Linked DNA regions of Homo sapiens: region 1 is linked to region 2. Evidence: fine-mapped expression QTL. A gene starts in region 2. The other region holds a variant in brackets. All regions are shown on one strand. Distances are from middle to middle. Region 1 overlaps VIPR1 (vasoactive intestinal peptide receptor 1). Region 2 holds the start of VIPR1 (vasoactive intestinal peptide receptor 1).

What was found. PIP is the estimated chance that this variant, and not a neighbour inherited with it, causes the effect.
Region 1: its variant is fine-mapped to the expression of VIPR1 in whole blood (TOPMed, PIP above 0.99). The same link has a PIP of 0.9 or more in T cells.

What each region holds. Positions count from the first base shown.
Region 1 is chr3:42,528,047-42,530,952 of GRCh38, reverse strand. VIPR1 (vasoactive intestinal peptide receptor 1) reads right to left here. Exons shown (of 13, transcript NM_004624.4): 6 at 2,830-2,906; 7 at 21-174. VIPR1-AS1 (VIPR1 antisense RNA 1) reads left to right here. Exons shown (of 3, transcript NR_046654.1): 3 at 1-57. Among named protein-coding and RNA genes, the nearest start is that of VIPR1-AS1, 3.1 kb to the left of the region's middle. The variant C/G (reference allele first, on the strand shown) is at 1,355.
Region 2 is chr3:42,501,104-42,504,009 of GRCh38, reverse strand. It overlaps VIPR1 (vasoactive intestinal peptide receptor 1), which reads right to left and starts at 1,367. Exons shown (of 13, transcript NM_004624.4): 1 at 1,197-1,367. The coding sequence starts at 1,274. RefSeq lists silencers at 1,109-1,608, 1,669-1,768 and an enhancer at 2,296-2,869.

The DNA.
Region 1 (2,906 bases), 27 kb before region 2:
AGCCCTCCCTGGTACCATACCCCAGCCGATGAGTATGTACCCCCAGAAGTACTTCCGCTCAGAGAAGAAGGAGACGGCAAGCAGGGTGTACAGGTAGAGGCCCTCCACCAGCAGCCAGAAGAAGTTAGCCATGACACAATATTGGAAAAAGACCATGGCTGCCTTACAGCCCACCTGCAGGGGGAGGAGAAAAGACGGGGTTCACTGGGGCTGTCAAGGGTCCTTGACTGCCCACACTCGTGTCTGGGGGGACAAACACAGTTGCAGTGCAGCCAACTTAATCTCTTTGTTGTTTTGCATTATCCCCTTAAAAATGTACTCATTGGTTTTCCCATTTTCCCTAATTTTAGATCCTCTGATACTTCGGGATAAACTGGTGATTTTAATTATCCATCCATCAATTCATCTATTCACCTTCCCATCTATATATCTACCCATCTGCCCATTCAATCATCTACCCACCTATCCATGTATCCATTTATTTACCCACTCACCCACTAGACATTCACTATCAACTCACTCATTTATCCATTTTTTATCCATGTGTCCATCCATCATCTATCATCTTCCCATCTATCAATCCATCCACCCACACACCTATCTCTCCATTCTTCTACCAACCCACTCAGTCATCTACCCATCCATTCATCTCTGCACCCACCCATCAATCCACTTGTGCATCCACCCACATATCTACCTACCTGCCCCTCTGCCTATCATCTGTCCAATCTTCCTTACTTAACCCATTTATCCTGCTGCCTACTTAGCCATCCACCAACCTGCCCATCCACACTCCCACCCCACCCACTCATTCATCTAATGCCAATTTGTATTGAAGGTAGCTGGAAGGTATGAGGGAGAATTCTTGCTTGAGTTTCAAGAGTCTGCTCAATGTGGGGGAGTGGAGGGCTGTGGACTGTGGAGTGGGGCCCAGATGGAAGTGTGGAGGGAGACTGGGACTGAGAAGAGGGTGGAAGAGGGGGAAGTAGAAATGAAGAAGAAGAGAAGAGGGGAGGGGTGGCCATTCCTCCTGGGGTTCAGAGGACCGAGTGGAAGAATGGGTTTCTTAGGCAGACGAGGACCATGAAGGAGTTAGGGAGACCCATGAGTAGAGCAATCACAGGGCTCTGGGTGGCCCACTTGGCATGACTGGAAGGTATTCTGGGCCTTCTGTCCCCTCCCAGAAAGTCCCCCATTTCAGATCAAGCCTAGATGTCTGTCAGCCAGGGCTTAAAGCCACCCTCCACCAGGAAACTGTCTGGCTTCCACTTCCCCCTGTACCCAAAACATTGGTTCCCACCCTTCCTTCCTGTACCCTTGGTTTGCGACATCCTCAGAGAGAAGCCTCCCCCTG[C/G]CCCCACCACTCCCTTTGGTTGGAAAGTCCTTCCTCAGGTCTCGCTTCAGTCCCTCCAGTTACAGGAGTTCTTGCCTCCCCATCTTCCTCCCATTTGCTTTTGGAGAATAACTCTTTTTTTTTTTTTTTTTTTTGAGATGGAGTCTTGCTCTGTCACCTAGGCTGGAGTGCAATGGCATGATCTCGGCTCATTGCAACCTCTGCCTCCTTGGTTCAAACGATTATTCTGCCTCAGCCTTCTGAGTAGCTGGGATTACAGGTGCTGACCACCACACTCAGCTAATTTTTTTTATTTTTGTATTTTTAGTAGAGACTGGGTTTCACCATGTTGGTCAGGCTGGTCTTGAACTCCTGACCTCATGATCCGCCCAACTCAGCCTCCAGAAGTGCTGGGATTACAGGCGTGAGCCATAATCCGCGTCTGGCCATAACTCAGCTCTTTACCAGGACAGTTATCTGTGCTTCTTCCTAGTCTTAGAAAAGCTTCGCAGTAATGAATTGGGAAGCCAGTCTCCATAATTATCCGTAACATGTGCACAGGAGGCAGCAGGTTCCTCCACAGGTCCTGTGGCTCACAATGCTCATGTCTGACTTGGCCTCACAGCTCCTGGGACAGAACCTCTGAGAAGCTCTGGGAATGGCCAAAGTGGGTCCCCTAGGTTTTCTCTCCCCCTTGTTGAAATGCCTGAGATTCCAGTATGATCATTTCACTCTTTGGGGAGAAGGTACTGCTGACCCCTGATATAATGCACTGCCTCTGGGGTCATGCATGAAGCAATGAGTTACTGACCACAAGGAATGAGTGGGGGCTGGGGCTGATCTCAAGCTCTCTGTCAAAGCTTGGGGCACTCAGAGAGGGTCCCTAAGAATCCCTTGGAGATGGCCCCCTTAGTGACTGGCAATGAATTCCTTAGATGATCCCTTTACCTCTCTTCCCTAGGAAGGCCCAGAACCAGCCTGCTGTCAGGATCAGAACAAAAGAGGAGGACTGCATATGTATGGACCCACTCCAGATGGCACGGGGACGGGGGGAGTAGGAAAAGTGGCATGGTGAGCAGAGCCCTGGCTATGCAGGTGGCAGATGGCAGAGTTGGAAGGAATCTTGGAATTCCTTGCACAGATGGGGAAACTGAGGCTGTAAGTTCCCCAAGGCCACATAGGAAGTTAGCAACAGGTGGGACAGGTGCTCTGGGCTGTGGCCATGAAGTGTCCCATTTCCCATCTGCTTTTCTCACTGGCGGCGGCAGGTCTGTGAGCACCCAGATGGGTGAGCAACATCTCCTGTTGCCGGAGGGGAGTGTGATTTGAGTACTGCCAGGTGGGGTTGGGTGGGGGTTAGGCTATCCTTGGATTGAGGGGTGGGGTGGGAGGGAAGAGGGAGGAGGGAGAGGGAGAAGCAGGGGGAGAAGAGGAGATTACAGTGGTTAAAGATAACGGCGAGACTGAGGGAGGTGGGCCAGGGCCAGGATCCTCACCGAGCCCTCGGAGCACTGGTCCGACTCCCCGCTGTCGAAGAGGGCCAAGTCTTTGATGAAGACAGCGGCAGCCCTCA
Region 2 (2,906 bases):
CTAGGACAGGCAATGAGCTTCCCATTCCCAGGGTGCTCAAGACATCCGCTAGATGGAAACACAGAGATACCTGCTCTGGTGGAGGTGATGGTAAGGGAAGTGACCATGGGAGAGAATGAACTAGATAATCAAGATTCCTCACCCTCCCCCAGCCAACTTGGAGTGGGCATTTAAGGCCCTGCCTAAGCAGCAACTCTAGATTACTCAAAGTCTGGGGTAGGGAGAAAATCAACCTTTGTCTAGGTCTAACTGGTGGGAGACAGATGTGGCTCTTGTGTCTCTGGACCTCGCTTTGCCCATCTGTAAAATGGGCTTCAGTAGACTCAATGAGTGCTGAGGTCTCCCCTGTTCTAGAGTGAGATGATCCATGCATCTCCTGCCTCAATCAGCATCTGCCTCCCAGCCCAGGTAAGCCATCCACAGGAACACATATCACACCCACACATGGGGCACACGAGTACACATGTATCAAGGGCATACACATACCCACGTTGAGAGGAAGCAGAAGTGGGAGGAAGAGGGAGGCCACTGCTTGTTGGCATTGGCTCCCTGCTCAGCTCTCTCCATGTACAGGCCTGGCCCCTCCTGTTAACCACCACCCTTAGCCCCTCACTGCCCACCAGCTTCCACCTTGGGGTCTGGTACCTTTTTGCTTTGCTCAGTGGGAGGGCACACGGAGGGATGTGCCTGTCACTCACCTGATCCCAAGAACCCCTTCTCAAGTCCTGGGGCCCCCAGCACTGGTTCTGATGCTGACAGCCCACAGGCACCTCCAGACGGTCACAGCACACAAGAACGGCCCCTCACATCCTCCCTCTCACCTACGGTGTACCAAACCTTCCATCTCAATCGGCCGCAGTACCTGACTCTGCACCCACTGGCCGCCCCACCCCGCTGCGCACCCACAACCACGACAAGGAAGGCAAGTCTGGGGCCCACTCTTCCCCGCTGCCCCTCCACTGATGCTGTGCCTGCTCCGGGCTGCGCTGGGAGGGACTGGGCACGACCAATATCCCAGCCCTCGCGTCTAGGTTCGGTCTGGAGCGGTGGGAGGAGGCGAGTCGAGATGCTTGATGTCCCCTATTCCTCTTACACAGACACGCGCACAGACGGCCCGGCTCCCGCCATCCCCCACCTCCCCCGCCCTCCGCAACCCCCAGGCTGCCGGGACTCTGGGCGGCCGGGCGAACACTCACCGCCGGCCCAAGGGCCCAGGCGAGGGCGCCTGCCAGCACGCATAGCCAGCGGGCGGGCAGCGGACTTGGCGGGCGCATGGTCTGCCCTGAGCCCGCGGCGGGCGGCCCCGCGCGGGCAAAGAGCTGGCGGGCGGCGCACCAGGCGGGCGATGGCCGGGAGCCTGGCAGAGTGGCGCTGGCGCTGTGGCCCCAGAGCTAAGAGGCGCAGCTCAGGGCTGGGGGCGGGCCCCGGGGGCTCGTCTGACGGGCGGCGGATCTAGCCAATGGATGGGTGGAGGCGGGGCCGCCGCGCAGGTATGGGGCGGGGCTGGGGAGCCCCTGCCAGTGAGGAAGCTCTGCTCTCTCTTTGCCAATCCCACACCTTGGTCTTCCGTCGTGAGACATTTATAGGCCTTCGCCCCTCCGGGCTCATCACCCGGGAATCTCGAGACCCGAACACATTCCATCCTTCCATGCTTAGCTCACGACCTTCGCAAGCTCCCACCTCTGTATCCACCCTCAGCCCCATCCCAGGGCGCTCCTCATGTCTACCCTCGGAGCCACCTCCTCCAGGAGGCCTCCCCGCCAGCCTCCCCATTTCCCACCTGTGCGTCTCCGAGGGTTCGTGCGCGCAAATCCGATTACGAGACAGGAAGTGCCACTTATCTTCCCAGGCTGCGAGCTGGGGCCCAGCAAGTGTCCAGGCGCTGACAGAGATCGGGTTGTTTGATCAATTTTCAACAACCCCAATTCATCCTTCGCGCCGAAGAAGCCAGGCGAGAGGAAGCGAGGGCTCGAAAGAGGCCCGACTCTGGGTTCCTTGGTGTTCCCTGCTCCCGGGTGACCTGGTGGGGCGCGCTCAGCACCTGTTGGGTGCCCTGGCCCTTCAAGCCTCGGGAGACCTGCTCCAGGGAGGATGAGGTGTCCGCACCCTCGCGGGTCTCGTCCAGGGCACCTCCCCAGGGAGGCTGGGCTGAAGTGCCAGCGCCCTCGCGTGGGGAGCGAGGTCTGCTCCCAGCCCGCAGGCCGACTCCGCAGCTGACCTAAAACGATCCACAGACGTCGTCCTCCTCCTGCATTCCCTATTTTACAGCTGGGGATACTGGGGTCCAGAGAGGGGCCAGGACCCTGGCCGCCTGCCTTTGGTGCTGAGCTTCCAAGGGGCGGCTGCTCGGCCGCTGGGTGACACCGGGTCAGCCCCTTTTCTCGTTTATTCGTCCCTGGCATGGGGAGCGGGGTCACCAGCTCTGCGCCCTGGGAGCGCGTCTTCTTGTGGACCAAGCGCAGGTGGCTGCTAGCCCTCTTTCTACGGGCTCGAGCCTGCACAATCGAGGCTGGAGATGTGGTCGCGGCGGCAGGATAGAGTGGCTGGCGGAGCCGTGTGACAGAAGGAGAGGCGGAGTTCAGTGGAGAGGCGGAGAGGGCAGCGGGTCCCAGAGCCCTGAGCAGAATGTGCGGCTACCTGAAGGAGGTCCCGCGCTAGGCTTTGGCTGAACAGCAGGCGCGCAGGAGCTCCCTGAGGACCCACCAGGGCTTCCCTCCCTACAGAGAGGGAACGTTGGGATGCTGCCATGGGGTGGGCTTGAGGGGAGTGGGGGAAAGCCGGGAAGGGATGAGTGCCCTGGCCCTTTCTTCAGGGCGTACTTACACTTTCTTTCCACTCTCTCTTCTTTCTCTTCTTTCTTCCTCCCTTCCAGCATTCCATCCCCTGCACTTGCTCTTTTTCCCTTT